2 separate regions of the Homo sapiens genome follow, and region 1 is linked to region 2. Evidence: fine-mapped expression QTL. A gene starts in region 2. The other region holds a variant in brackets. All regions are shown on one strand. Distances are from middle to middle. Region 1 has its middle 22 kb from the start of STK25. Region 2 holds the start of BOK (BCL2 family apoptosis regulator BOK).

Region 1 (5,374 bases), 29 kb before region 2:
TACAGGCATGCGCTACCACGCTGGGCTAATTTTGAATTTTTGGTAGAGACAGGGTTTCTCCATGTTGATCAGGCTGGTCTCGACCTCCTGACCTCAGGTGATCCACCCACCTCGGCCTCCCAGAGTGCTGGGATTACAGGCCCAGCCTCTTATTTTTTAAATTAGAGATAAGGTCTCACTATGTTGCTCAGGTTGGTCTCAAACTCCTGGACTCAAGCAATACTCCTGCCTTGGCCTCCCAAAGTGCTGGGATTACAGGCATGAGACACTGCACCCGGCCCCTTTAAAGAGATATTTGTATTCCATGTTCATAGCAGCATTATGCGCAATAGCCAAGAGGTGGGGAAAAACCCGAAGTCCATCAACGAATGGATATATAAAATGTGGCCTATCCATGCACTGGAATATTATTAGCCTTAAAAGGACAGAATTCCTGACCACAACATGGATAAACCGAAAGGACTTTATGCTCAGTGAAATAAGCCAGTCACAAAGGGACAAATGCTGCATGATTGATTCCTTTTATATGAGGAAATCTAGTCAAATTCATAGAAACAAAAAGCAGAAAGGTGGTTGCGAGGGGCTGGGAGGGGGCTGGGAAGCTGTTCTTTAATGGATAAAGGGTTTCAGTTCTGAAAGATGAAAAGACTTCTGGAGACTGGTTGCGCAACAATGTAAACATAACGCCATTGAACTGTACAAAAATGGTTAAGATGGTAACATTTATGTTATGTGTACTTTACCACAGTTAAATATAATAGGCTGGGCCGGGTGGCTCACACCTGTAATCCCAGCACTTTGGGAGGCAAAGGTGGGCAGATCACTTGAGGACAGGAGTTCGAGACCAGCCTGGCCAACATGGTGAAACCCCATCTCTACTAAAAACACAAAAATTAGCTGGACATGGTGGCACACGCCTGTAATCCCAGCTACTAGGGAGGCTGAGGCAGGAGAATCTCTTGAGCCTGAGAGGTGGAGGTTGTGGTGAGCAGTCATTCCAGTCTGGGCAACAGAATGAGATACTGTCTCAAAAAACAAATAAACAAACAAAAAGCCGGGCATGGTGGCACAAGCCTGTGGTCCTAGCTACTTGGGAGGCTGAGGCAGGTGAAATCGCTCAAACCCGGGAGGCAGACGTTGCAGTGAGCTGAGATGGCACCACTCCACTCCAGCCTGGGTGATAAAGCAAGACTCCATCTCAAAATAAATAAATACATACGTACAATATAATATAATGTAATATAATTAATAATGCTCAGATGCATGCTACAGCATAGATGAACCTTGGAAACATGCTGAGTGAAATAAGCCAAACACAAAAGGCCAAACATTGTGCGATTCCACTTATACTAGCAGCAGGAATAGGCAAGTTCACAGCAACAGAAAGTGGAATCAAAGTTACGTGGGGAGGGGACCAGCAGATGCTGCTGAATGAGTACAGAGCTTCTGTTTGGGGTGATGAAAAAGTTCGGGAACTAGATAGTGGTGATAGTGACACAACATTGTGAATTTACTTAACGCCACTGTACACTTAAAAATGGTTAACGTAGGTTGGGTGTGGTGGCACGCGGGTGAGCGGAGATCGCACCACTGCAAACTGTAATTACACCTGTAATCCCAGCACTTTGGGAGGCTGAGGCAGGCAGATCACGAGATCAGGAGTTCGAGACCAGCCTGGCCAACAAGGTGAAACCTCATCTCTACTAAAAATACAAAAATTAACTGGGTGTGGTGGCACGTGGGTGAGCGGAGATGGCACCACTGCAATCCAGCCTGGGCGACAGAGCAAGACTCCGTCTCAAAAACAATGGTTAACATGGTACATTTTACATTATGTATATTTTACCATAAAAAAGTAGTGATAAATTGGACTTTATGAACATTTTTAAGTTTTGTTTTGAGAAAGACACTGTTAAGACAAAAGACAAACTAGTCCAGGTGCAGTGGCTCACGCCTGTAACCCTAGCACTTTGGGAGGCTGAGGCAGGCGGATCACTTGAGATCAGGAGTTCGAGACCAGCCTGGCCAACATGATAAAACCCCATCTCTACTAAAAAAAACAAAAATTAGCTAGGCATGGTGGCGGGCACCTGTAGTCTCAGCTACTTGGGAGGCTGAGGCAGGAGAATCAGTTGAACCTGGGAGGCAGAGGTTGCAGTGAGCTGAGATTGTGCCACTGCACTCCAGCCTGGGTGACAGAGTGAGACTCTGTCTCAAAAAAACTAAAATTAACTAAAGACTGGGAGAAAAAAAATGACACGTCACATATCCATCAAAGGATATGTCTCAAAAATGTATAAAGAACTCCCAAAGCTCAACAGTAAGAAAATCAAGGCCAGGCATGATGGCTCACGCCTGTAGTCCCAGCAGTTTGGGAGGCCAAGGCAGGTGGATCACCTGAGGTCAGGAGTTCAAGACCAGCCTGGCCAACATGGTGAAACCCTGTCTCTACTAAAAATACAAAAATTAGCCAGGTGTGGTGGCGTGTGCCTGTAATCCCAGCTACTCAGGGGGCTGAGACAGGAGAATTGCTTGAACCCGGGAGGCAGAGGTTGCAGTGAGCCGAGATTGAGCCACTGCACTCCAGCCTGGGTGATACAAACGAGACTCCGTCTCAAAGAAAAAAAAAAAAAAAAAACAACCAACAACCCAATAAGAAAAAAATTGAGAAGAGATTGGAATAGACACTCCATCAAAGGAGGCCTACAAGTGGCTAAGAGACACATGAACAGCTGCTCAACACCTTTAGCCCCCAGGGAAACGCAAACTAAGACCA[C/T]GATGAGATCCCAACTACACAACAATTAGAATGGCTAAAATTTAACAAACCACTGATAATACCAAGTGTTGACAAGTATATAAGTCAGGGTTCTCCATAGAAACTGACCAACAGGAGATATATCTGTATCTATCTATGTATCTGTCTCTCTGTATCTATATCTATATGGGGTGGAGACAGAGAGAGAGAGAGATTTATTATAGGAATTGACTCATCCAAACGGAGGCTGAGAAGTCCCACAGTGTTGTCTGCAAGCTGGCACACCAGGAAAGCCAGCAGTCTGACCCAGTCCAGGTCCGAAGGCCCAGGAACCGGTGGGCTGATGCTGCGGGCAGGAGAAGATGGAGGTCCCAGCTCGGAGAGAAAATTCACCCTCCCTTGCCTTTTTGTTCTACCCGAGCCCTGAGTGGATTGGATGCTGGCTGCCTGCATGGTGAGGGCAGATCCAGTTTACTAAGTAGGAGGCTCAAATGCTCATCTCCTCCAGAAACCCCTTCACAGACACCCTCAGAAACAGTGTCTCCCCAGCATCCAGGCATCCCTCAGCCCAGTCGAGCTGACGTAAAATTAACCATCAAAGAGAAAGGTGACCCATGTCCTAGTTTGTCCAGGAGTTTCCTGATTTTTGCATGGAAAGTCTCAAATCCCAGGAAACTCCTCAGACCCGGACAAAGTGCAGTGATTGGTCACTCTGGGCGAGCACGGGCAGCATCTGGAGCTCACACGTTGGGACAGTGGCCATGCGAGATAGTGTGGCCACTCTGGACAACAGCCAGGCAGTTACCTACAAACTGAATATTGAGCATTCTCACTACCAGGTGTTTATCCTGGAGAAACGGAAACCTGTCCTCACACGAAAACCCATACATAAATGTCTAGAGCATGACTGCTTGTGACAGCCAGAACCTGGAAATGACACAGACGTCCTTCAAGATCTGATCAAGTGAGCAGCGGCCAGGCTGCGGGGCACGCATGCAGCAGATCACGCTCCCGAGTGGAAAGGGTGAGCCTTGGAGGCACGTTGGAGAGAAAGAAGCCAGCCTCAAACATTACATACTGTAGGATTCCATTTACTTATTATTATGTATGATTAGTTTTTTGAGACAGGGTCTCACTGTGTTGCCCAGGCTGATCTCCAGCTCCTGGACTGGAGTGATCCTCCCGCCTCAGCCTCCAGAGTGGCTGGGATTACAGGCTCTAGCCACCACATCTGGCTATGATTCCATTTGTCCAATGTTGTCAAAAGGACACAAGCCATGGAGAAGTAACCGGCGGCTTCCAGGGGTCAGGAAGCCTGGTCCTGCAGAGGAGCGCCATGAGGGGCTTTCTGGGGTGATGGGATCACGCTGCGTGTGGATGGTGTGTGCAGAGGGGAGCATCGCACAAACCCATACAGGCAGGAACATTGCTAGAACTCCACACTAAAAAAGTCCGTTCTGCTGTACGTTAATTTTGTTTTATTTTATTTATTTTTGAGACGGAGTCTCACTCTGAAGCCCAGGATGGAGCACAGTGGCATGCTCTTGGCTCACTGCAGCCTCCATCTCCCAGGTTCAAGCAGTTCTGCCTCAGCCTCCCGAGTAGCTGGGATTACAGGCATGCACCATCATACTCGCTAATTTTTATATTTTTAGTAGAGATGGGGTCTCACCATGTTGGCCAGGCTGATCTCAAACTCCTGACCTCAAATGATGCGCCCTCCTCAGCCTTCCAAAATGCTGGGATTACAGGCGTGAGCCACCATGCCCGGCCCTGTATGTTAATTTTTAAATGAAAGCTTTTAAATTAATAATTCCTAAATGTCATCCCATATGGAGTCAGTGTCCAGATTTCCTATCTGTACATAGGATTTCCCAAGAGCAACTGCATACCATTGGTTCACACTTCCATCCCTCCACACCTGTTTCCTTGTCTCTTAACTCTCTTTTTGCCCCTGCAACGGAGCAGCGGAGGATATCGAGCCTCCAGTCTGTGGAGGCCACAAACTGGCCTTTGGACCCGGTGCCACCTCCCTGTTCCTCAGCGCCCTTCTCCTGCGCTTGGCAGTAGGTGGCAAGGCTCGTGGGCTTCTTGGCTTCTGTGGGAAGCCCACCTCCTCTCCCGCAAGCCCAGGTGGTCTTTATCAGACTGCACACTCCCTCAAGTTGGGGTACAGTGGTGTGATGGTGGCACATCTTCCTGGAAAGTCCCATACCCCAGGGTGTCTAAGGACACCCCACCAGGCCCCCAGCCCCGTCTCCTGCAGAAGCTGCAGCTTGGCCTTGGGGAGGGGCTGGAGGAGGGCAAAGCCCCCAGGATGGGTGAGCACCACCCTCCAACCAGGGGCCACGGAAACGGAGGGAAGAGGAGATGTGGAGACAACAAGCAGGGCTGCCTCGCCCGGGGGAGCTGAGGGCCCAGAGCCAGCTGACCCACCACGCCAAAGCAAGTTCAGCCTCAGTCCCACCGGAGTGCCACGACTGGGCAAGCCACCCCTCCAGTACAAACCCCCAAGTCAGAGGGGCACGGCCGCAGGGTGGCAGCAGCTCTGTCACTGCCCTGGGCTGCACATTTGGCTGTAGGCCTCACGGATGAGGACCTTGCCCTTTTGCAGACCTC
Region 2 (5,374 bases):
TGAAAAAGCAGCTAACAATGACTGAGCACTTACTACATGACATGGATTAAGAATTCAGTCCTCCCAGGCTGGGCGCTGTGGCTTACGCCTATAATCCCAGAACTTTGTGATGCCAAGGCAGGTAGATCACGAGGTCAAGAGATCGAGACCATCCTGGCCAACATGGTGAAACCCCCTCTCTACCAAAAATACAAACAATTAGCCGGGCGTGGTGTCAGGTGCCTGTAGTCCCAGCTACTCGGGAGGCTGAGGCAGGAGAATCGCTGGAGCCCAGGAGGCGGGGTTGCAGTGAGCCGAGTTTACGCCATTGCACTCCAGCCTGGCAACAGAGCGAGACTCCGTCTCAAAAAAAAAAAAAAAAAAAAAGAATTCAGTCCTCTCAACAATCCTAGGAGGTAGGTATTATTATTCTTCCTACTTCCCAGACAGGAAAGTCATAGCAGATAGAAGTTCCATAGCTTTCCTAGCTTCTGGTAATGTTCCTGACAGGTTTCGGTATTAAAATTACATTGACCTCATAAAATGAGTTGGGAAATACTCCCTCATTTTTAGTCTCTGTGCAGGTTTGTATGAGACTGGTGGTATTTTTTTAACTGTTGAGAAGAATTTCTCAATGAAACCATCTGAACCTAGAATTTTCTTTGTGGGAAGATTTTAAATTACAGATTCAATGCATTTAATTGGTGTAGGACTATCCAGATTTTCTATTTCTTTTAGTGTCAGTTTTGGTAAGTTGTGTATCATCTAAAATTTCAAATGCACTGTCAAAAAGTCCTCCATACTATCTTTTTATCCCTTTAATGCTTGTAGTATCTACAGTGATGTCCTCTTTTTCATTCTTGATAGTGAAATTTGTGTTATCTTTTTTCTTACTCAATCTTTCTGGGGATTTATCAGTTCTATTAATCTCTTCAAAGAACCAATTTTTGGCTTTGTTGATTTTCTCTATTTTTTGCTTTATTCCATTAATTTCTGCTCTTATTTTTATTATTTCCTTTCATCTTTAGTTTTATTGTTCTTTTCTAGCTTCTTGAGTGGAAGCTTAGAGCAGTAATTTTATTTTTCTTTTTCCTTTTTTTTTTTTTTTTTTGAGATGGAATCACACTCTGTTGTCCAGGCTGGAGTGCAGGTGGGATGATCTCTGCTCACTGCAACCTTCGCCTCCCAGGTTCAAGCAATTCTCCTGCCTCAGCCTCCTTAGTAGCTGGGATTACAGACACCTGCCACCACACCCAACTCATTTTTTGTATCTCTAGTAGAGACGGGGTTTTCACCATTTTGACCCGGCTGGTCTCAAACTCCTGAGCTCAGGTGATCTGCCCACCTAGGCCTCCCAAAATGCTGGGATTACAGGTCTGAGTCATTTCACCTGGCCTAATTTTCAATCCTTCTTCTAAAGCTATCAAATTTCCTCTAAGCAGTGTTTTAGTTGCACTGTACAGCATTTGATATGTCTTATTTTTCACTGTTCTTGTCAACATATTTTAATCTTCCACTGTGATTATTGACCCATTGATTATTTAGAAGTGTGACATGTAATTTCCAAGCATTTGCAGATTTTCCAGTAATTTTTCTGTTATTGACTTTTAATTCAGAGAGGACACACTGTAAGATTTCAATCCGTTGAGATTTGCTGAGACTTGTATAAGGTCCATGATATGGTCTATTTCGATAAACATCCTATGTGCACATGGGAAGAATAAGTATTTTATAGTGTTGTACACACGTGAATTAGGCCAAGTTGGTTAATCCTATTGTTCAAACTGTGTGAGGTTGATTCAAGGATAAAGAAATAAACCAGTGGGATAGAGTTCCGAGACACACACACACACACACACACACTCTTCAGCTGATTTATGTTGAGATGTTGGGGACTCCTCCAATTCGGTGGAAAAAAAATGATGCTTTTCAATAAATGATGCCAGGTCAATTGGATATCTACACGAAAAAAAATGAGCTCTAGCCCCGTACCACACCATTCACAATAATTAATATGTAATCAATCATAGATCTAAATATGAGCCCTAAAACAAGCTTCTAAAAGGAAATACAGGAGGATATCCCAATAAAAAGGTACTAACCATAAAGAAAATATTGATAAATTGGACATCACTAAGAGTAACTCCTGTTCATCCAAAGCAAAAGTAAACCACAAAATAGAGGAAGATATTTGCAATAACTTCAATAAATGCGAATCCAATAATCCATCTACAATACAAAGGGCATGCGTCCGGACCAAGAACACGTCTCCAGACTCTGGAAAGAACCTCTACGAACGAAGAAGACAACCCAATTTTCAAATGGACCCCGGGGAACACCCAGGCGGCTGGGGCTGGCTCTAGGTCCCCACTGCTCTGCCTTGCGGGGGCCGCTCCGGCCTGGTCGCCTTCTCCGGGCGCATCCAGGGAACTCGCTCGGTCCTCCTTAAGCGGGGAAGCTCGGAAAGCGTCTCCCCGACTCCGCCCCCAGGGTTGCCTTTCCCTTAGAAGGCCAAGCCCCAAGCCCAGCCTCTCGCCAGCTGGGAGTCGCGCGCTGCCCACCTCGCTGCCCAGGCCCCCGACGCCGCGGCAGGAGCCCCCCAAGAGCGCGGGAAGCCCCGTGGACCTGGCGCTCCCGGCTCGGGCGTGGACGGGGCGGGCGCCGGGGCGGGGCGCGCGTCCTCGCGGGTCTGAATGGAAGGGTCGAGGTCGTCGTCGGCGGCGAGCAGATCCTGAAGCCAGAACTCCACCCCGGCGCCCGCGCCATGCGGCGGGAGAGGTGAGCGCGGCGGGCGTGGCGTCCGTGCCGGGGTGCCCGGGGTGCCACGGGAACGGCGAGGCCGGGGACACGCGCGCAGGACGCCAGCGGCGGAGGTGGGCGGCCCCGGGCCGGGGCGGGGAGGGCCGGGTCCTGGCAGTCGCCGTGGGGGACGCGCTGGGCTGTGCCCTCCGCCCCCGCCGCCCACGCACTCGTCTTCGAGGGCGGGCCCGGCGGCCCCGGAGCAAACCGCCGTCTCCCCGCGGCCCCACCGGTCCCTGGCAGCCTCGGGGAATGTCTGTAGCTGAATTCGGGCTCTGAAAGAAGGTGGCGCTGGGTTTTTAAAGATTTGGGGCACAAAAAACGAGAGCGGACCCGGCGCCGGCTACGGCCCTTCCCGAGGGCCACGCCCAGCCCGGCGCCCCGCGCGCCCCGTTCCCCGCGCCGCCTCCCTCCACCCGGCTGAGCGCTTGTGCCCGCAGGTGCGGCGCCCCCCACCCGCGTCGCCGCCATGGAGGTGCTGCGGCGCTCCTCGGTCTTCGCCGCCGAGATCATGGACGCCTTTGACCGCTCGCCCACAGACAAGGAGCTGGTGGCCCAGGCCAAGGCGCTGGGCCGGGAGTACGTGCACGCGCGGCTGCTGCGCGCCGGCCTCTCCTGGAGCGCGCCCGAGCGTGCCGCGCCGGTCCCGGGACGCCTGGCTGAGGTGTGCGCGGTGCTGCTGCGCCTGGGTGAGTGCGCCCTGGTGGGATCCCCAGCTGCGCCTCCTCCCCTGCTGGGCCGCAGCCTCCCTCCGAGGCCGAGATGGGGGTCCGGCCCAGGGGCGCCCACCCCCTGCCTGGGACGGCCAGGCGCTCGGGACAGGGCCACCCAGGCGGGTGCTCCCGGATCTGCCCTCTCAGGCCTCCCACGCCACAGGCCCCCCCATCAGCTGCCTGCTCAGCCCAGATTTCAGTCATGCTGGCCATAAACAATAGAAAGCTCCAGAAAGAATAATCTATTAGTGGGTGGCTAAGCTTCCACAGTGACCCTTGTTCTCAGCTGGGCACAGAAACCCTTTGTAGGAGCACGTGTCCCGATGTTTATTTTGGAAAACAGATTCTTGCTGTTACTGGCCGAGATCCCGCCCGCTGCCCTCTGGATTCCGAGGCCTCCGAGGCCCCCCCATTGGAAACTGCGCCCACCGGGCTGGGTAGCCAAAACCTCAGTATTCGTTGGTGCTGTGAGGACATCTGGGGGTGCTCGGTTCTGGGGTCACACACGGTCCACTGGCTGCCCCCACCGTCTCCAAGGTCTGGACCCAAGAGGGAGGGACCAGCCCCACTGTGACTGTCCAGTCCCCTCACCACAGCTGGGCTGTGGCCGTCACCTGGGAATGTTTATGTGATGCCCGAAGAGGGCACATGGGGCGCCTGTGGCTGAGCCCGGGAAGGGGAGGTGACAGCATAGGTGAAACTGAATCGGTGGCTCTCCAGGCAGGGGGTTGGAGTCGGAGGGCACGACCCCGTGAGGGGACACGCTGCCTCCTCTCAGGCTGGCGCTGGCATGGGCTCTAGGTGGCCCCTGCCCTTACGTGGTGGGCTGGGCCCAGAGAGCAAAGCTGTGTAGACCTGGCCTGCCCAGGAGTGTGTGTGGGGTGCAGACAGAATCCATGGGGACCAGCACAGAGCCTCCAGGAGGAGGTGGAGTCCCATCTGAGAAGTTCAGAAGGAGGGAGAGGTCTCTGGGTGGGAGCTAGGGGGTTGGTGGGGCTCCATGAGATCCGCCGCCTGCTGCTGCCTCTAGTCGGGCTCTGAGAATGACCCTAGGGGATCCTTTTAGTGGCCTTCTGAAAAGATGATGCCAGACCCCTGGAATGGCTGGGAAGAAGTCCCAGATGTCTAGGGGGACCCCAGAGGGACACAGCTCAGACCTGCATCTGCCCTCACGGCTGCTCAGGGTCAGTCCCTTGAGGCCAGCGCTGTCTCCCTGCCCTTGGGCAGTGCAGACAGGAAGAAGCCCGGGTTGTGTCCCCACCTTCAGTCTGGGGCCAGCCTGCAGCAGCCCCGGAGATCTGTGTTTGGGAGCTGCCGGGTCAGTCCTGGGAATTTCCATGTCGTCCCCCGCCCCCAGCCAGCCTCTCATGGGCTCTGCTCTGCTTCCAGATCTTAATTAATGAGATACAGAGCAGCCTTTATCAGCTGGGATGGTCCGGTCAGCAGCATTACCCTGTTTGCTTTGGCTGGAGAACTGGCCGGGCTGCGGACTCCCAATCCCAGGGCCCTGTGGCATTCTCGGCACCATCTGCCCCGTGCCTGTGCGCTGCTGCTGCCAAGGGTGCCACAGGCAGCACTGGGGCGGTGGGCCTGTAGGGGCCATCCTCGGCTGCCAGGGGCAGGGCTGATGCAGTGCCACCTCCAAGCACATCCCCTTGGCAGCAAGAGCCCAGGTGGGAGCGTGGCAGTGAGGGTGGCCCAGGACAGCGGCCCAGCCAGCCCAGGTGGGAGCGTGGCAGTGCGGGTGGCCCAGGACAGGGGCCCAGCCAGCCCAGGTGGGAGCGTGGCAGTGCGGGTGGCCCAGGACAGCGGCCCAGCCAGCCCAGGTGGGAGCGTGGCAGTGCGGGTGGCCCAGGACAGGGGCCCAGCCAGCCCAGGTGGGA

What was found. PIP is the estimated chance that this variant, and not a neighbour inherited with it, causes the effect. A credible set is the group of variants that fine-mapping cannot tell apart.
Region 1: its variant is the best candidate, but not a certain one, in a credible set for the expression of BOK in subcutaneous fat (TwinsUK, PIP 0.70).

The regions. Positions count from the first base shown.
Region 1 is chr2:241,527,620-241,532,993 of GRCh38, forward strand. No RefSeq gene overlaps it. Among named protein-coding and RNA genes, the nearest start is that of STK25, 22 kb to the left of the region's middle. The variant C/T (reference allele first, on the strand shown) is at 2,777.
Region 2 is chr2:241,556,237-241,561,610 of GRCh38, forward strand. It overlaps BOK (BCL2 family apoptosis regulator BOK), which reads left to right and starts at 2,509. Exons shown (of 5, transcript NM_032515.5): 1 at 2,509-2,757; 2 at 3,219-3,467. The coding sequence starts at 3,248. BOK-AS1 (BOK antisense RNA 1) reads right to left here and starts at 2,907. Exons shown (of 2, transcript NR_033346.1): 1 at 2,541-2,907. RefSeq lists silencers at 3,172-3,251, 3,282-3,351, 3,402-3,531.